2 separate regions of the Homo sapiens genome follow, and region 1 is linked to region 2. Evidence: fine-mapped expression QTL. Tissue or cell type: whole blood. Region 2 holds a variant in brackets; the other region holds the start of a gene. All regions are shown on one strand. Distances are from middle to middle. Region 1 holds the start of CERS6 (ceramide synthase 6). Region 2 holds the start of LOC105373734 (a long non-coding RNA gene).

Region 1 (10,166 bases), 31 kb after region 2:
GCTGGCTGATCTCCTGCATCTAAAAAGTGGAGACTGCAGCTGGGCGCGGTGGTTCACGCCTGTAATCCTAGCACTTTGGGAGGCCGAGGCGGGCAGATCACGAGGTCAGGAGTTTGAGACCAGCCTGACTAACATGGTGAAACCCTGTCTCTACTAAAAATACAAAAATTAGCCAGGTGTGGTGGCACGTGCCTGTAATCCCAGCTATTCAGGAGGCTGAGGCAGGAGAACCACCTGGGAGGTGGAGGTTGCAGTAAGCCGAGATTGCGCCACTGCACTCCAGCCTGGGCAGAGCGAGATTCTGTCTCAAAACAAAACAAAACAAAACAAACAAAAAAAAGTGGAGACTGCTTACAATGTGAACTCAAATTAAGACCTGGGTGTGGACCTGAGAATGAGAGATAAAGCTCAGCTTTGTTGATATTTTCCAGTTGCTTGGAAATCAGGGTGTATTCTCAGGTGATGTTTTCTATTCAGAAAACAAAGCATGCTTTCCTAATATGCAGTGTAACTGGTGTCACTTCCCCTGAACACATTTTTTTTTCTCCCCTTTTCTCTTGCCTTGTCCCTTTACCGACCAGCTACTTACTTTCTCACTGGGCTACATATTAGTCTGATGCATAAATTGTATTTTGGTTTCCTGGGGCACCAATTAGAAGTCTTTCCTGTACATTTACAAAGTAGCTTTCTTGAGAGGTATGCTGTGCTATCCCCCTCCTGTGACTAACTTCCCTGGGGCCTCAGCTGAGCTCAGGATAGCGTTAAAGACATGTACTCTTGCTGTGCACAGTGGTATGCACCTGTGGTCCAGCTATTTGGGAAGGAGGCTGAGGCAGGAGGACTGCCTGAGCCCAGGAGTTCTGGGCTATAGTGCACTATGCCAAATGGGTGTCTGCACTAAGTTCAGAATCAATATGGTGACCTCCCAGGAGCAGGGGATTACCAGGTTGCCTAAGGAGGGGTGAACTGACCCAGACTGGAAACTGATCAGGTCAAAGCTCCCATGCTCATCAGTAGTGGGACTGCACTCCAGCCTAGGCAACATAGTGAGACCCCATCTCTTAAAAAAAAAGACATGTGCTCTTAGAGTAATGTCTTGGATAGTGGGATTTTTTTGCAAACTGAAATAGCAGCAACTCAACCCAAAAGCAGAATTTATCAAGCTATGAGGCTGTTTCACAGAACCTAAGGATGAGAAGGTAGTTGGCCCCTAGGTATTAAATGGAACCTGGAGCTCCAATGCCAACAGGACTCCCTGTGTGTCTCTTACCTTTAACTCTGCAGGTCTTAACTCTACAGGTCTGCTTTATTTTTTTTCTCTTGTTGTAGACTAGCTTCTGCTTTTTCTAGCTGTGTAATGAAGCAAGGGGGCCAACAGCTTCTGAGTTGGAATCCTTGAATCTAAGCATCCAGAGAAAGACAGTCTTGACCCGACTCACAACACCGGAGTAAGGCTTTTATTGCCATGTTAGGCCAATTGTCCATCCCTGGATCAATAAAATGTGATCATATTTGGAATGATAGTTTACTCTAATATGTTTCTGGGGTAAACGTTTAGATGCAAAGTGGTAGGAAGGGGCATTGGCTGGAGGAGTTCTACTAGACAGATGAGGAGTAGGTGTTTGCTGAACTGTACATGGGTATAGAGAAGAATAGTTTACAAGCCCTTTCTCATATGTTATCTTATGTGAGCCTCATGACAGTCAGTGACAGAGGCAAGACAGGTACTGTTGATGCACAAATCACACAGGAGGGTATTAACACGCTCTTAGAAACAAAGGAACTTATGGAAGATTCATAGAAAGTACTAAATCCTCCTTTTACTGTCCAACAAAACTCACCCTTCAAAATGTTCCTGAAATCCCACCACCTTCTCAAAGTTGATGAATGGGAGAGCCACATTATCTTAGTTTAGCTCCTATTAGTTTAGCTTCTAAGTTCCAGGGAAGTGTAGTTTCAGGGAAGCAGGAATGAGAGAAAAGGAGAGTGAGATGAGAAAGAGGAGAGGAAATATAAGGGGGTGAATTACTGAGTGGGTCACAATCTTGAAATAAAATGATGAGTTTATATCAGGGGGTGAGTTACTGAGTGGGTCACAATCTTGAAATAAAATGATGGGTTTGTAGCAGGGGGTATTTTCAGAGAGGCTGTTTGAAGCCATTGTGTGTGTCCGAGGGGTGGGGAGGAAAGGAATAAAAATGTACTTACTGTCTTCATTGCCCATGATCAAAGTCAGATCCCAGGGCATTAACTCACCAACAGTATTATACATGCTTGGGGACATAGAAGGAGCTGCTGGAGAGCACAGAAGCCATGGAGTAGGAAGCAAGGTACTATCAGGTCATACAGGAAGGAGTGACATGAGAAACCAGGGGTAGTCACAGAAGAAGTCTGGCTGGCCCAGAAGGCCAGGCTCTGACATGTCATGACATGTCATGACATGACTTTCGGACACAAAGTTGGTGAGAGGTCTTAACAAACCTCTGTCTATGGCCTACGAGAATGCAGCTGGTGCCAAGGCATGTTCCAGTGTTACTGAGAAGCTCACCACATGGTCTAGAGTGGTGATGGCGACTTCTACTCCCAAATGAAGACTCACTTCAATGACACCTCACCTCCCTCACCCCAGAATTGACCAATTCCTTCTTTATGCCCACACTATTCTACACACGAGTCTAACATGGATATATAAATATTTAACACAATTATTCAGATTTTTTTTCTTCTCCTTGAGAAGACTTTTTGGGGTTGGAGTAATGTTGATTCATTTATTCAGTAGTTTATTGAGTATCTACAATGTGCCGGGCAGTTTTTTTTTTTAAGTGCTAGGAATAGAACAGTTGATAAAATAAATACAAATCTTTTAACTTTCTGAAGCTTACATTTTAGTGCATGTCTGTGTGGATGATTGATGAAGATATAGGTACAATATATCTTGTGTTGACGGTGGTAAGTGTCTTGGAGAAAAACAAAGCAAGATAGGAAGAGTGGTGGTGGGGATTGAGGGATGTAGATTAACTAGGGTGGCCAGGGAAGGCTTCAGGGAGAAAATGACATCAGTACAGAGCAAACATGGATGTTCGTGTAAAAAGAGTTCCAGGGACAGAGAAGAGCAAGCACAAAGGCTCTAAGACATAGCTGGTGTGTCCCAGTAAGGGCAGGGTGGCCAGTGTGGACTCAGGCAGAGTGAAGGAGAGAGAAGAGTAAATAAGTCAGAGTTAATACGGAACCAAATATCACAGGTCATTGGAATAATTTGGCTTTCACTTGGGAGGGATGAGGAAGAAGCAGGGTTTTCACCCCAGGGGTGATCTGACAAATTTGCATAGGATCACACTGGCTGAGAATAGACTGTAGAGGGGCAAAGGGTGAAACTGGGAGTTGGGAGGTTACTGGAGTAATGTGAATTAGAAGTATTGGTTGTTTGGACCAAGATGGTAGCAGGGGAGGTGGTGAGAGATGGTGAGATTATGGTTTTAAAATGGTGCTGATGGGATTTGGGATGGATTGGAAAGGAGGTATGAGAGAAAGAGAGAAGGGGAAAAAATGACTCCACATTTTTGGCTTGAGCCAAGACTACAGGAGGAAGAGATTTCAAGGGGAAGATTAATAGTTTGGTCATGAGATAGCTTTTAGACATCTGAGTGGTGGTGTTAAATTGCCAGTGGATTTAAGAGTCAGAAGGTCAGGAAAAAGTTCATGGCTAGAGATATAAATATGGGAGCTATTAGCATGACATTGGAGGGCATACAGATGTCATTAAAAGCCACGAGACTGGATAAAATCACCAAATGAATACATTCAGATAGAAAAGTGAAGAGGAAAAAAGACTGACTCCTAGGCCACTATAACTTCTAGGGGTTAGAAAAGTGAGGAGTAACCAGGAAGGAGACTGAGAAGAAATGGCCATGAAGGAGGAAGAAACCCAGAAGAGTGAGGTTTCTGGAAGCCAAGTCAAGAATGTTTTAAGACACACGACCTGACAACTGGGCCAAATGCTACTGACAGAGGTGTTGTGAACTGCTATGAACTGAATGTGTGTGTCCCCCAAAATTCATATGCTGAAATCCTAGTTCCCAATGTGATAGTATTCAGAGACAGAGTCTTTGGGAGGTAATTAGCTAATGAGGGTAGAACCTTCATGAATGGGATTAGTGCCCTTATAAGAAGATAGGGCACTAATCTGTGTTTCCTCTTTCTGTGCTCTCTGCCATGTGAGGATACACAAGAAAACAGCTGTTTTCAAACCAGGAAGAGGATCCTTGCCAGACACTGGATCTGCCTGCATGTTGATCTTGGACTTCCCTGCCTCCAGAACCGTGAGGAATAAATTCTGCTGTTTAAGCCACCTAGTCTAAGCAGCCTGGACTAAGATAAGAACTGACCTTTGTGTTTAGCAGCATGAAGATCACAGGTGACCTTGGGCAGTTTCAATGCAGCAGAGGAGACAAATGTCCAAATGGAAGTTCAAAAGAAAATGAGGGGAGAGAAATTGGAAGCACCAGTATAGGCCATTCTTCAGTTTCACTTTCAAGAGATAGAGTGGAAAGAGGGGAGGGAAGAGTAAAAGAAACTCCCTCTCTCTGTGTGTGTGTGTGTGTGTGTGTGTGCGGTTATATGCCCACTGGAAAGGTTTAGTATAGCCTACTGGCAGCACCAGGCAGAAAATGAATGTGAGAAAAATGAACAAAAATGCCCCAGAACCATGTATACATGGGCCATGGAATGAATTCACACATGGCTCCTGTATCAATGGGGAAATGCATTGCGGGAGGGAAGGTGCCTGGGTTAGGCCTCACAGGCCTAATGCCTTAAAGGTTTTAGATTCAAAAGGCAGAAATAATGAGCCTGCCGAGTAGCACAGTGGAGGTTCTCATGATGTGCCAGGTCAAAATGTGGTCTAGCAGCCTTTTCAGAGAGGTTAGTTGAGAGGGGTGGTTTTACAGAACGCTGCAGTTGCTATCATCATCATCATCATCATCATCATCGTCATCAAGTAGCAATTAATAATCAAATAGCAATTAAGTGCCTAATTTTTTGTACCACCTCATAAATCAATATAGGGGGGCTTGTTCCCTGGGGGAGCTACTTTGATGAGAAGCAGCAGTATAAAAGACCGGAAAGTCAAAGATTGGGGAAAGGCAGGCGTGGGGCAGAGGCAGAAGGCTCTTGCCAAACCATCCTGCCTCAGTTCCTGATTTTTCACCCTGCCTCTCCAAGCGCGGGAGTGGAGGATCCTTTCCCTCCCACTTCCTCCTTTGCTCTTTACCCCTCCCCCTCCCCCCCCCTTTTTTTTTTTTTGCTGTCCTCCTGGAGCAGGGCTGGTTCTGAAGCTTGGCGGCAGCCCCTACCTGCTGACCCACCGCCTCCGGGCGCACGGGAAGAGGACTGAGAGCCCTGAAACCCCAGCGGGGCAGGAGCCAGCATTCTGAGCATGTGCGAGCCAGCCAGGGGGCTAGGGCGGATTTGGGGGGTCGACTTTAGGTCGTCGCCCTAAGCGCAAAGCGAAAGAGCGGTGAGAGCAGGGGCGGGCGACACTCCCCGGAGCGGTGCCCCTGCGCCCAGGGCGCAGCGACTGCGCCCTGCCCTGCGGGTGTGGGCGAGTTGGCCGCGTGTGTGCCTCGCTGTTTGACGCGAAGACGAGCCAATCAGGGCGGGCGGCCCGAGCTGCCATGTGACGGGCAAGGCGGCCCCTTTCCCCAGCGCGGCCAGAGGGAGGAGAGAACCGGGGCTCGCCGCGAGCCTTCGAGAGCAGCGGCCGCGGAGGAGGCGGCGGCGGCGGGCGGGAGCAGCGGCGGCGGCGGCACAGGCTCGGGGCCAGCCGGGCGCGCATCCCCGGGCGCCCTGCGCGGTGGAGAGCTTGGCGGGCTGCGGGTGCCGCAGGACAGGAGTGGACAAAGCAAGATGGCAGGGATCTTAGCCTGGTTCTGGAACGAGAGGTTTTGGCTCCCGCACAATGTCACCTGGGCGGACCTGAAGAACACGGAGGAGGCCACCTTCCCGCAGGCTGAGGACCTCTATCTCGCTTTTCCCCTGGCCTTCTGTATCTTCATGGTGCGGCTCATCTTCGAGAGGTAAGAAGGGCTGAAGCCCCTCCTCCCCTCCCCCTGCGCACACACACGCGCGCACACACTCGCGCGCTCTCTGGCGCACGCCCCCGCGCCCCCAACGCTCGCGTTCACGCCTCCCAACCTTTGTGTTCGGGGAGGGGTTGCTGACCCCCCTGCCCCGCTGGCTTTCTGGGAGCCAGAAAGGGTCTGGCTTGCCACGGATTTCCTCCCGGGCGCCGGGGAGGAGCCGCGGAGCGTTAGGGTCGCCCCCTGCCCTCCTCCTGGGCCCTGCTCTCCTCCCGGCAAGGGCAGGCGAACAAAGGTGAGCGGTGGTCGGGCTCAGGACCCGCCGCATTCCGCGGGGCTCGCCCCTCTCCGCCGGCGCGCCACGCAAGGCTGCCAGGCAGGGCTTCCCGCCGGGGCCCGCGCCACCCACCTGACAGCCAGGAACGTTCCGGACGCGCGGCCCGGAGGGAGGAGGAACCGCGCACACTTCAATCTTTATGCTCCGGCACACGGATTGTAGGGGTTGTGCTTCAAAAGAATTCGCCAGGGACTTCCTGGCTTCTGGTCGCTGTTTGGTTTTTATCCGTGAAACTATCAGGCCCACAGTCCTGGCAAATAGGGGATAATAGCATTTCAGGTTATTAGCGGTTTCTTTAAAAGAGGATGTGACAGGACGGGTCCACATCCTGCAAAATGGTGATATTAAACTGATAACCCTGTCCTGTGAATAATCATAAACTTCTTTTTTGGTACTCGAAGGCACTTAAAATTTTGAGGAATTGTCATGCAATTGTATAGTTCCTCGGTTTGGTTGGATATCTCCATTGTGTCACATACAAACTTGTGTTATTCTCATGGAATTCGTTTTCGTCGCGAAACTAGATTGTGCCTGCCATGCATTCTCTGGGTGCTACTGAAAGAAAACCAGGACAGCAGCACACTTTTTTTTTCGTAACAGAAAATATTATCTTCCCCTTTCTTGTACCCTCCCCTTCCTCTGCCCAATTCATCAGTAAAGGCTGAATTTCTTAGATCACAAAGTAGAGTTTAGATTGCATTTCTCGCTTCCACTCCGCCTTTCTTCCCCGCCTTCAACTCACCTTGGTTTTGTTTCTTAAGCTTTTGCTGGTACCTCATTTGCTGTTCCTCTTTGCCTGAAAACGACTGTTGAGGGTGGCAGAACGCGTCTTTTGAGTCATTTGCTGCTGGACGAGGCAACAAAGCTTCATGGGGACAAAAAGTATCTTTTGTCTCAGGAAGGTATATTTTTCACCGGACAGTATTGTTGCTTGAAAACGAAGTCAGCTGTTCGCCTGCAGAAATTGACATGCACAAAGCAACAGACTTTAAGACCTATGTTTAAATTATTGGAATCTAATACAGATGTGTCATTGATCCTATACAAAAAAGGATCAAAAAAGTCACAGCAGTGCTGTGAAAAAATGGGTGTGTTTGCAGGTGTAGAGTTACCTCTAGAGCAAATGTTTGGTTACAGAAAATATGAACTCTATACAGTTTTGCAGGCTCTCCAAAAACAAGCAGACTCAGGGATAGCAGGTTTGCTCTATGTTGGCACATAGTAGGGGATCTACACACAATTGCTGAATTATGATAAATTGTGTCTGATAAATTCTGGCTGGGCTCACTTTTAGATAGATAATGCATTTGAAAGAGATGTGCAGTCTTATGTGTTGGAGAACAAAAGCATGATCTGTGCACAAACAGCCGAATTTTCCTGACATCCTCCTTCTCTATGCTGATTCCAGGCTGTTCACTGTGTTTAAAAAAATTAAGTTGTTAGAATGGAGATGGCTTTGTACTTAGATTGTCTCTGCCTCTAAAAAGATAAACACTAATGTGATAGTTGAAAACTGGAAGTTCATTTTTCCTCTTTCTAAACATTTTTTATTTTCTTTCTTTTTTTCCATAATCCCATGACTCGACTTAGAGTTTACATAGAGGGGTGAGCTGCTTTCAATTGTCAGTCACAGCAAATGTCCTCATATTGATATAAAGTGAGTTGGTCAGTTTCCTTCAGGCCATTGATCTAAGTAGAAGAGATTTAATGGCCTGTATGGAAAGTGAAAGTTTATGGTTAATGTTCAGAATAATAATCCAATATGGCACATATGTCACAGAATGCTACTGACTTTTGGAAGACTATCTACTTTGTTTCTTCCTATGATAGCTCTGTCTTTAACCATTCAGACCTTCTCAATTCTCTGAAAATCCACAATTTAGTTGTATCTAGAGTTAGAAGTTCTGCATGTTTCTCCTCTTCTCAAACCTAAATGACATATTCTGGGATCCAACCTGTGACCTTCATCTCAGTAGCATCCATCAAGGGCCTGAATCAATAAAACAGAACCATTCAGTATTATCACTGCTACAACTCACATTCAATGGCCTTCTAGCATTTTGTATATACATCCTTTTCTTTTGCAGTATTCTATAATGTATACGATGATTTTAAAAGCCTGTTGTGAATCCCTTTGTAGAATGAAATGCTTTTGTAATAGGAATAATTCTCTCAAGATTCTTCTCTTTGTATGCTTTGTCATTTATTTCAAAGCTGAGACCATACCTAAGAAATACCCGATTATCCAAGTCTTTATTTTACATTAAGTGAAGTCAGTAATGTCCTTGTTGAGGCTAAAATCGTGAATTTGAATGCCTTCTTCTCAGTCTTAGGTATTTCTCTCTACTAAGAGAAACATCAAAGAATTGACTGAAATGGGCTTTGCCCAGTTAAACAGTCCTTTCTTTTTATTTTCATCCCGGCTGTTGTGGTGTGGATAGTGGAGGCATTGGTAGCCAGAACATGTCACTTTATGACAGCATATGGACAGCAATATGGAAGCCCAGCATGGTTGGTAAAAAATGGGGCAGCCTAAGGTCAATGACTTTTGGCTGAGTCTGTGAAGATCTCAAAGCTTGGTGGTTTTTAGCATAGCCTTTATACCATACTTAACTCCGGGTAAGGACCAGGACCACTGTAGCGACCAATTGATTGACAGAGTAAAGTATGTGGGTTTTTTTTTTTCCCCCAACTGGGCTGATTCTCTTAGAATAAAAATTGTATACCATTATATTATGTTAACTTGATCACAAAGAACAAAATGTTATTTATTAATAATATAGCATTGTCATCTGTTTGATGAATTTTCTTGATTTAATGCTTGTTTAGATTCAGTAAGCCATTCTCAGGAACTATAATAAATGCTTCTTCCAACTTCACTTTTTCAAAAATGTGTTTTGCTGTGGTATTTATAAATGTGGAAATTGTGCTGAATCTCTTTAGAAATAAAAATTCTTTGAGTTATTGTTACAAATGTTAACTTTAATGCTGTGGATTTAGGAGAGATGCAGGAAGTATAGATCGGGAATCAGAACACTCAAATTCTAGTCAAAACTTACACTGGGGCAGCCTCCTAATTTATCTCTGTTTATTTTCTCATTTATGTGTTGAGGCAAATGGCCTTTGTAACTTATTGTTTTCACCCTCCTGATTCTTTGATTCCTGTGGATCATCTGTGCTTGAAAATTACTAATTATTATCTGATGAAACTTTGAAGCGGCTGAATGTCTTTTTTTTTTCTTTTCTTTTTTTTTGAGACATGTTCTCCCTCCATCACCCATGCTGGAGTGCAGTGGCATGATCATGGCTCACTGCAACCTCCACCTCCTGGGCTCAAGCAGTCCTCTCACCTCAGCCTCACGAGTAGCTAGGACCACAGGTGCATGCTACCAGGCCTAGCTAATTTTTTGTAATTTTTTGTAGAGATGGGGTCTCCCTGTGTTTCCCAGGCTTGTCTCAAACTCCTGAGCTCAAGTGACCCGCCCACCTTGGCCTCCCAAAGTGCTGGGATTATAGGTGTGAGCCCCTGCACCTGGTCAAGAGATTTTTTTTTTCCACAGAAATATTGTAGTCAATGGTTTTGTTTCTTGTATTTTTCAGCTGTGTTTTGAGTCAAAAGAATCATTTGGGCTGTTATCATTTATGCTCCAAAAAGCTACAGTATTTCAGAATAACCAACAAAGATTCTATAGAGAAAGCAATTGTTCCGTTTCCTTAGACCTCTTTTAGGTAGAACCCAGAGTAGGCCTGGC
Region 2 (10,242 bases):
AAGAGAGGGTCTGAAAGCCAAGTTCATTGTGGGGAATTCTTTGAGTTCTTTTAGAAAGACTTGATTCTGGTTGTGGTGGGGGTGGAAGGGTGGGTAGGAGAGAGGATAGAGAAAAATTACCCCGAGAGACTCCTTCCTGCAACTCCTCAGACTCTTCCAGCTAACAGAGCATGGGCATGATGCATTAGTGAGCTGAGAGTAAATAGCAAATGAAGCAGAGGTGCCAGTTCCCTTGAGGCTTAGGTAAGACGTCAGTGGTAAGAAAATACTACATTCTTTTTGTGTAAGAGGCCAAAAAGGTGAAAATCTCTGGTAAGGCATAATAACAGTAGAAGAGGGAAAGACTAAAGTTCATCTCTCCTGAAATTTATCTTCTGTTATGCCAGTCCATGCTAACTTCAAATTCTGAGTAGCAATAGTGCTCATCATATATTGTCATATTATTATAGAGCCACTCAGAAAACAAGAGAAATTTGGGCCGCCTCTTTTTTTTTTTTCCTGAGGCTCTAGCATATTAAAAATGATGAAATAGCAAAATAGACCTACAATGATTATATATTGTTTACAATTAACAGTAGGCTTTTGATACAAATTATAATAAAGTAAGTATGCTAGTCATCAGCTACAAATCATGAAAGATATGAAATCATAGTAGACATATGAAAGACAAAAATGTAAATTTCTATGATGAATATGTTTGTCTTTTAATCCTGTCATTATCTTTGTGGTTGTATGTAATGCCGCAATAAAAGATCAGGCTAAAAATCTATGAGTTCTTTGTGAATAAGAAGTCAGGGCCAAACAGTCTTCCTTTGCCATCTCTCCTGCCCTCCTTGTTTTAAGTTCTGCTCATGGGGGTTTCCAACCAGACTATAGCCCAGTTTAAAGGAATGACTGTGTCTTATGAGTTGTGGGGCAAGAGGTTGAGGGGAACAAGAGTGTGACTTTGGTTGGATTTGTAGTGGAATGGCACATACCACAAGTCAACAGGATGGAAGAGGCAAGTTCAGAGAGGATGACGTAAAGCAGGGAAGGGTAGGAAGATGCCATGAGTTCGGGCAGGTGAGATGCTCAGAGCAGACCCTTGTCCCTGGTCTATCCACCCTGGACTGAGCCTGGCAGCCCACAGAACTGAGATAGGAATTGGCAGTCGTAGTCTCCAAGACAACAGGCCACATGACCCCACTGATAAGACAGGAGACAGTAAACAACAGGTCACAAGCCCCTGCTGCTAAGAGGATAACAATAAAGAAACCAGGCCGGGGGCAGTGGCTCATACCTGTAATCCCAGCACTTAGGGAGGCTGAGGCAGGCAGATCACGAGGTCAGGAGTTCAAGACCAGCCTGACCAACATGGTGAAACCTCATCTCTATTAAAAATACAAAAATTAGCTGGGCATGGTGGTGCACACCTGTAGTCCCAGCTATTTGGGAGGTTGAGGCGGAAGAATCGCTTGAACCTGGGAGGTAGAGGTTGCAGTGAGTCAAGATCTCACCACTGCACTCTAGCCTGGGCAACAGAGCAAGACTCTGTCTCAACAATAAATAAATAAATAAATAAATAAATAAATAAATAAATAAACCATCTAGAACCAAGGTGGAGTGAAAGTGACCTTCACTATTCATTATCCATGAATTATAATTCACTAGCATGCTAAAAAACGCTCCCATCAGTGCCATGACAGTGTACAGTTGCCATGGCAACACTCAGAAGTTACCCTGAATGGTCTAAACTGGGGAGAAAACCCCAGTTCTGGGAGTTCCCTGCCCCTTTTACAAAAAACTCATGCATAATCAATCCCTTATTCAGCATATAATCAAGAAATAATCACAAATATAACAAGTGAGCAGCCCACAATGCTATTCTGCCTATGGGGTAACCCTACTTTGCTTATGGAGCAGTCTTCCCTTTGTTCCTTTATTTCATTCAACTTCCTCTTGCTTTTTTTCTGTCAGATCGCTTTTGACTTCTTTCTTGTGTGAAGCCAAGCACACAAAGTCCCCCAGACTGAACCCTACTTTTGGATGTGCAGAAGGGATGGGTTGGCTGAACTTTTCAACTCCCTTCTCTATTCAATTCATGATCTCATCGCCATGTTTCATTCTCATATTTCACTTCTTTAAGGGCTTTTCTACTAAGTCTTAAAAATCATTATGTTAACATATACTTTGAGAAATTGTTGGAATAATCGCCATTTGGTGGGAATATGTTCAGAGAGAGTGGTGGCTTCCCCCATGACCCTTCCATACCTGGAAACACACACCCTGCCATCAAACTGAGCTTCTGACTTAATGTCTGGGGAAGGCAGCTGACAGGGATCTGGTACTTAAATTGATAGAGGAGGACCTAGAATGTGGAAGAGTGAAGGAATTAGGAGTTCTGGACAAGTAGAGACAAAATCCCAAGGCATAGAATTCTGTGAACAATGGAATGAGGGTCTAGGCATGGGCACCAGCAGGACAGGGTGCAGCTTGACACTTAGCAGGGTTTCCCTGCATCCCTACAGCTCAGTCCAGAGGTGGTCCAGATGTGATGCAGGTGGAGCAATCATATAATTCCCATAATGTACATGTCTTATGAACTCATCCAAATCAGAAAATACTCTGCCTGCCTGACTGTAGTTCTCTATAAATGAAAAAAAGTGTTATTAAAAGGATTATAAAACTCTAAAAAGTCAGAGCCTACAGTCTCTGTGCATAAGTAAAACCATTAGATAATCTGGGTGAGAGATCTTTATGGCCATTTGTCATTTGATGATATTTTCTTCACCTGTAAACCCACAACGATACACTGTTACTAAGAGAGGATGAAACAGAAAGGCCTGGAACATTCCATTCCCAAGAGATAATTTATCTAAGTTTTAACAAAGAGAAAGAAAATCAAAGCATAAAATGTTCTCCAGTTTTGGTCTTTTGCACAGTCAAGAGAGGCATTACATACTTACTACTTTGTTATTAAAAATAGAGACTACTCTCCTCCCAATGTCCCAAATGAGAAGAGGAAAGTTGGAACTGGATGCCATCAATAGGTTGAGAGACCAGTCACATCAAGGAAGAGAAGAGGGACCAATTTATGTTGGCAACATTTAACTTTGATGAGCCTCTTTTTGTCAGCCTCTTCTAACTTGGGGAGGCGGGAGAGGGGAGGAAAATGGCAGAGAGAGAAGCGAAGTGGGGGAAGGCCGTCTAGAAATCTAGAAGAGAAAAAGTTTACCTGTAAAAAGAAAGCCAATGTGGATTATAATTTAACATAATCTTAAAAAGAAAATAAAGAGACTTCAACAAAAGTCAAAGCAAACCATTTTAATCAATTTGAACCCCAGTAGGAAGAGGGTAGTTTCCCTTGGCCTTTGGCTAAAAAGTCTACTTAAAAAGCTGGTAGTCCATGGGCGCCTGTAATCCCAGCTACTCAGGAGGCTGAGGCAGGAGAATCATTTGAGCCTGGGAGACAGAGGTTGCAGTGAGCTGAGATTATGCCATTGCACTCCAGCCTGGGTGACAAGGTGAGATTCTGTTTCAAAAAAAAAAAAAAAAAAAAAAGCTGGTAGTCCAAAAGGAAGGCTATGTTAGCAGGGAACATTGCTGCACAATCAGAGGAGTTAGTTTTTAGTCAGAGTTTACCAGAAAATCCCCAGGAAGTCTGAAGTTTCTTCCTCTGTGTCATTTTGAGTTGCTGTCATCTGTCCCTAACCCCATTCAGATTAGTCAGTGTGAAAGTATTTGAAGGTATTTCTGCCATTAATTTTAATTCATTTCTAATTTTTTTAAAAAAATTCATAAACTAAAAATAATAGCAAGTCCAATGATATTAAAAGCTTAAATGTTTTTCTAAGATGATGATTCCTTATAAAAGGAAAAATTCCTTAAAGAGCTGTGTTTAAGAATTCATGAGATCAGCTGATCTTTTATCAAGTCACACATTTGTTTCTATCAAACCATTAAGACTATGTGTAATGTCAAAATCATTAAATTCCAAAAATTATTGTGGAAACTCTTCTCCACATTATTTTATTATTATTATTTCTACAAATTATTGTGTAAACTGTCCATCCAAGGTGACTACGGACAGAAAGGAAGTGGATGTGATAAAATATCAATGTAC[T/C]GATACATTGAATTTAAAGTCAGAGAGGGTTCTTGATGGAAAGGACTGCATAAATCAATGAGATCTGTGGTTCTCAACTCTGGTTGCATAATAGAATCACCTATATAATGGTATTTCAGTTTTATGTTTCAACTCAGCGTTTTAAGGATATATTCTTGATTATTTCTTCTATTTGAAATCTTCTTATCTACACCTCCCATTTTTACCACCACTGCCAAATTTAGCCATGAGAACACCTATACTTCTTACGAGTGATTTTTATTCTCTCTCTTGCTTGAGATCAATTTTTCTCCAATCTCTTTATATTTTCATTTGAACACCTACAGAATTTTTTAAGACTCTTCTCGACTGCATGAATTTGAATGCTAAAATATTTATGGTTTCTAATGCAGAATGTAATTAAAGACAGTCTACATTTGTCTTCTTTTTAAAGGTTAATACGTTTGTTATAAAATAATTTAAAATATTAAAACATGAAAAGTATAAAAACCATAATGATAATACACAGAATAGGAAATGTATTTATCACACATACAAGAAAATGTTGAAGAAAGTGCAAAATTATTTGTATATATTCTTGTGTATCAAGGTTTAAGGACTTTTAAATGTATCATATCTAATGAAATGAAATAAACATTTTCAGGACTTTTGGGAAGGACTGTAGATTATTACCACACTTTGAAATATAATTTGATAATATATATTATCAAAGCCTTAAATACTTTCATTTCTAAAACCTGGCATTAAGAAAAAAGTCAGCCATCTCTCTGTGTCTCTGTCTTTCCTTTATGAATTTCTGCTCCTTTGTCCTAATACCAATGACTTTGGGTATCTGTATTAGTCTGTTCTTATGCTGCTAATAAAGACATACCCAAGACTGGTTAATTTGTAAAGGAAAGAGATTTAATTGACTCACAGTTCAGCATTGCTGAGGAGGCCTCAGGAAACTTACAATCACGGAGGAAGAGGAAGAAAACACATCCTTCTTCACACAGCAGCAGCAAGGAGAAGTGCTGAGCAAAAGGGGGAAAGCCCCTTATAAGACCATCAGATCTCATGAGAACTCACTATCATAACAGTATGGGGAAAACCACCCCTATGATTCAATTATCTCCACCTGGACCTGCCTTTGACACGTGGGGATTATTACAATTCAAGGTGAGACTTTGGTGGGGACACAGAGCCAAACCTTATCAGTATCCTATTTAGGATTCCATTACATGTTTTATAATTTTTTTCCAGTTTCCATATTAAATCACTTTTGAAAGTACATACATCTTCTGACTCTTCATCAAGGACTAATCCCTACTTCCATAGGCTGCAAAGTGAGGATCATAACAATACCTTCTTCACAGTATTATGTAAATTAAATACATTTTCATGTGAAAGGCTGGGATTGACTAACTGTTGGAAGATTTCTGGAGTTCATTTTGTAATTGAAGCCAAGCTCTTGATTGCCTGTGAGGCTGATATGATGTGGGTGATCACATTACATTTCTGGTTTGTTTCTCAAATTTCATCACATTGCTGTGAAAAGTTACCATGGATATGTCAGGTTTTGAGCATGCTGTGCTGCTGGGAGCTTGGTGGAGACCTTCTGGAGTAGATAAAATGGAGGAAGGTCAAGGTGAAAAGCTATGGTCTTAAGGGGAGGCATTTCCCCATTTCTGCCCATTTTTGCTAGGAATGGATGCCAGCCTCACAAGGTAGCCAACTGAACTGGAGCAGTTAGTTACCCTTCCATTTGGGGGCTGGTGTTGTGAAGATCATCCCAAGCAAGAAGGAACTGCTGAACTGTGAACTTCTGTTTTCTACAAATCATCAAAATTTTTAAGTCTTATTTGCCTTACCCCACGCTTTGCTAGTGTTCTGGGTTGAGGCGGATTTGTTTCATCACAAAGAACCTATAGAGACATAATGTTTCTTTTTATCTTTCCCAGGTTAGCACGTTTTAACTTAGTTCAGTTGACATAGGGTTATTTTTAAGAAGAAACTTCAATTGGCAACTAGGAGGGGAAAAAAAAAAACCAGAACAGACTGGTTTACAGTTTCTTTTAAGATATGTTCCCTCCCTTCCTAACTTTCTTCCTTCCTCTTTTTCTTCCTTTAATTTTTTTTCTGATTCTTTTTTCATTTAATAAATTTCTTGAGCACTGTGCTGGTCAGTGGGGAGTCAAGGATAAATAAGAGGCATGATTTTCTTCCTCTAATTTAGCTACAATTTACTTTCTCTCTGAGATCAATACTTTTTCTTTTTTGTTTTATATTATACAATGAGAGACGGCCCCTCTTACTTTATATTCCTTGAACAATAAGGACCCCTAAACATTACACATCTAAAATGATATATTAACACCGGATTTTTTTTCAGTAAGGAAAAAAACAATTTCCCTAGTAACCAGCTTGCTATAGTCTCTTAGGAAGTTCAGCTATGATTGCTGAATGCTCAAATCTGTCTTATTCTTCTTAAAGTATCCAGGCCATTTTTTTCAGTATGAGAAATTTAATGATGCTTTAAAAATAATTTTTAAAAACAGCTAACCAGCAGGGCATGGTGGTGCGTGCCTGTAGTCCCAACAACACAGGAGGCTGAGGCGGGAGAATCTCTTGAGCCCGGGAGCTGGAGGTCAGCCTGAGCAACATAGCAAGCCTCAAACTCCTAGAAGCCTCAAACTCCTGGGCTCAAGCGATCCTCCCACCTCAGCCTCCTGAGTAGCTGTTACTACAGTTGTGTGCGACCACACCACACTAATTTTTAAATTTTGTGTAGAGACCAAATCTCACTGTGTAATGGTTTTTCTTTTTAAAGTCTTGGTGCCACCAGGCCTGGAGCACTCCACGCTCCAGGAATCCTAGATTGGTAAGGAATTAATCCATTGGTTACACTTGCCTCAACCTATTGTTCTCTCAAGTCTCCAGCCTCACAAACTGTATCAGTAGTTGATTGGGTCTCTGCCTCCTCTTTGGGCGTCAGGTTTCAGGTGTATGGCTTGAAATGAGCTTACTTCTTAATAAATCACCCTTCTTCTCATTGACACCTCACCCTAGCTCCAAAACCTGCTCTCCCCTGTGATCTGCCCCACTACTGATAAGCTCTCTGCTGGCACTAACTTTAGGTCATTCTCCAGGCCATATGGACATGGCATTCCAGGAAAAGGGGAGATGTGAGCTGGGGGCACGTGAGTGTAGACTAGCACAGTGTGTCCAGGTAATGGCATGGGTTAGTGTGATTGGAGCTAAGGTCTGTGCAGGGGGCATAGGAGGACACTAGGCTAAGAAGGAAAGTTTGGCCCAGATTGAATGGGCCTTCTCATTACATTAGACTTGATCCAGTACTCAGTGCAGAGCCACTAACAGGTTTAGGGGAGGTGAGTGAGTTAACCCTATTCCTGTTTTAGGAAGAGGACTTCAGTGTAGGCATGAAGGGGTACTGGAGGATGAGACTGCAGGAGACAGGGCAGCTCTTTACAGGAGGTTTGCCTTAATCCAACAGAAAATAGTAAAGGGTGGACTCAGACCTGGCAGTGGAATGAAGAGATAAGGAAGATGGGAGAGATTGTTTCAGAAATAAAACTGATACAACGTTTTGATTAATTGGATGTAAGTTAGAAGGAGCAGGGAAAGTCAAAGTAGAGGTCTTCTTAAACATATATGGAGAAGTTTGTGCCAGTAACTGAGTGAGAAATAGAAAAGGTAAAGCAGGTTGGGGAGAAGAAGATCAGTTCTGTTCTAAACATGCTGTTTGAGGCCTGAAAGGAGAAGCTAAATGCGTATCAGATAGACAGGAGAAGCTCTGGGAGTTAGTCATAGAATTTACAAGAAACATCAAGAGTTGTTGCAGATTGGTCCAAGTCAAACCAAAGAGGAAACTGAACTTAGAGAGTGAGAGAAAGGTAGCAGGACTTAAGGATGTGATAAATAACTGGCTTTCAACACTCACCGAACATCTAAGTCACTTGGGAGGCTTTAGAATATTAGTAATTTCATTGAGATACAATTTATATAGCACAGAATTCACCTGTTTAAACTTTAGAATTCACGGTTTTTAGTATATTCAAAATTGTGCAACCATCACCACCACTTAATTTTAGAAGATTTTTGTCACCCCAAAAAGAAACCCTATGTCCATCAGCCATCACTCCCTATTCCCCGCAATGAACTTAAAAAAGAAGAAGGTTGCTACTGGAAGGGTATGGTAAAGCTCACAGTCTCACAAAGAGCTGAATTACCAGGCCTTAGGAAGAGCAGAAAATACTCCAGCTCTGGGAGTCCCAGCAGAAGAAACTGAGAGGCTTTTTCTTCCCAGTGATGCTGATTGATGACTCAGCATTCACGTCTTCTCTCCTATGTGTCTCTGCTCAGTGGTCAAATTCCAGAGAAGGAAACTCAAAACGACCTCTGGTCAGGGAAGCTAGTCAGAGAAATCAAACAACAACAATGAAAAACCAGATGTCTAACCACATTGTTGGTCTGGAGAAAGCTGCATCTGCGAAGACTCTATATTGTCTCCAGTTGAGAGTGAATGTAAAGTGAGGAAACAGTACATGAAGGCTTACTCTTCAACAAGTCTATACCAAGGGAAAAAAAAGTAAAGCAATTGTGCACAGTGACGTCCTGGGCTGAAATATTTCTCCCACCCCAGCCTTCTGAGTAGTTGGGACTACAGGTGCACACCACCACACCTGGCTAATTTTTTTAAAAAATATTTTTTGTAGAGATAGGGTCTCCCTATGTTTCCCAGGCTGGTCTTGAACCCCTGGATTCAAGTGATTCTCCTGCCTTGACCTCTCAAAGTGCTGGGATTACAGGTGTGAGCCATTGTGCCTGATATTTGTTTGTTTTTAAGATATGATGTCCTTGAATATGTTCATAGGCAGGGAGACCTGGGGGAGAGGGGAGGGAATTAATGGAGCAAGTTACAGAAGAAGGCAGGTAGGGCTGATATTAGTGGCAGAGGAGGAGGGGTTAGCTTTGGAATGTAGGAGGCACACTTTTCCAAATAGATGGAGATTTGCAGGGTAAGGGGAAAGGAGGGATCTGCAAACTGATGGCCTGTATTTCTCAGGGAAATAAAAGACAAAGTGATGTGTAGATTGAGGGTCCAGGGAGTGAGGACTTGAGGTGAGTGGTGAGTCTGTGACTCCTGCTGCAGGGTCAGGTTCACTAACGGCAGCAGAGCAGTGGAGTGGTCCAGTCAAGCTTGACGCCAATGGATTGCTTTTTGTTCCTTTTTCCTTCCATTGCTGATTTTTTTTTTCTTTACATTTTAATGTTTATTTATCTCTCTCTCAAAGAGTGAACTAGAGAAAAAAAAAAGGGAAAGCAAATGTTAGAGGTTAAACTGAATGGACCACATCATAAAGTTTCTGCTCAAGCTTTGGTGGGGTGAGGATGAAGCGGACACAAAAATAGCTTGTTATTATTGGACTCCACTTACCCTTGTTTCTCCATCATAACCTCTAGTCCACGGATGTTGGTTTGTCTTACTACTCTAGAGGACTTGGAGCCCTTGGTTCAGAAGATGAGGCAAGAGTGCAGTAGATTCCTTCAGGTGTAACTTTACTGCACAAGGGTGCACCAAATAGGCAGCACCTGAGTACCTGGTACCACCAAGGTTGTTCCAAGGAAGGTAGTTTATATCACTTCAAGGCAGGGTTGTTGGGACAACCAAGCAAAAATGGCTTAAAGACTATACTTACCTTCCATAACTGCAAGGGGCATCCGTGGCGAACCAAAAGATCTCTCAGTTGAAGACCAGGTGACCCCAGATGAGATGTCAATCAAGATCTACCCCCTCTGAGTTCTTTAAAAATGGAACCTCCATTCTTGACTTCATAATGGCTTTATTGCAAACTTCACAGACCTTCCTGCTAGCACAGCGCTAAAAAAGAGCATCATTTCAGACTGCATTCTGATTGGGAGAAACAATCAGGAATTAGATTAGGCAGAACTGAGTTAGAACCCCTATCCCACCACTTCCTAACTGGGTGCCATTGGGCAAATTACTTACTCTCTCAGATCCTATGTCTTTGTATTTAAAGGATAATTTTAAGATGAAATTAAATATCCTGGTGAAAGCATTAAATAAGGAGTCTGGTACATGTTAGGTGGGCAACAAGTGCTGGAAATAATGGATCATG

What was found.
Region 1: CERS6 starts here. The variant in region 2 is fine-mapped to the expression of CERS6 in whole blood (INTERVAL, PIP 0.91).

The regions. Positions count from the first base shown.
Region 1 is chr2:168,450,545-168,460,710 of GRCh38, forward strand. It overlaps CERS6 (ceramide synthase 6), which reads left to right and starts at 5,728. Exons shown (of 10, transcript NM_203463.3): 1 at 5,728-6,074. The coding sequence starts at 5,905. It overlaps LOC102724081 (a long non-coding RNA gene), which reads right to left. Exons shown (of 4, transcript XR_002959433.2): 1 at 6,487-10,166. It also overlaps the pseudogene RN7SL813P. RefSeq lists silencers at 5,320-5,539, 5,570-5,659, 5,780-5,909, 6,360-6,419.
Region 2 is chr2:168,419,143-168,429,384 of GRCh38, forward strand. LOC105373734 (a long non-coding RNA gene) reads right to left here and starts at 2,613. Exons shown (of 6, transcript XR_923559.3): 1 at 2,251-2,613. LOC102724081 (a long non-coding RNA gene) reads right to left here. Exons shown (of 4, transcript XR_002959433.2): 2 at 9,802-9,983; 3 at 8,332-9,402; 4 at 3,289-3,511. The variant T/C (reference allele first, on the strand shown) is at 4,103.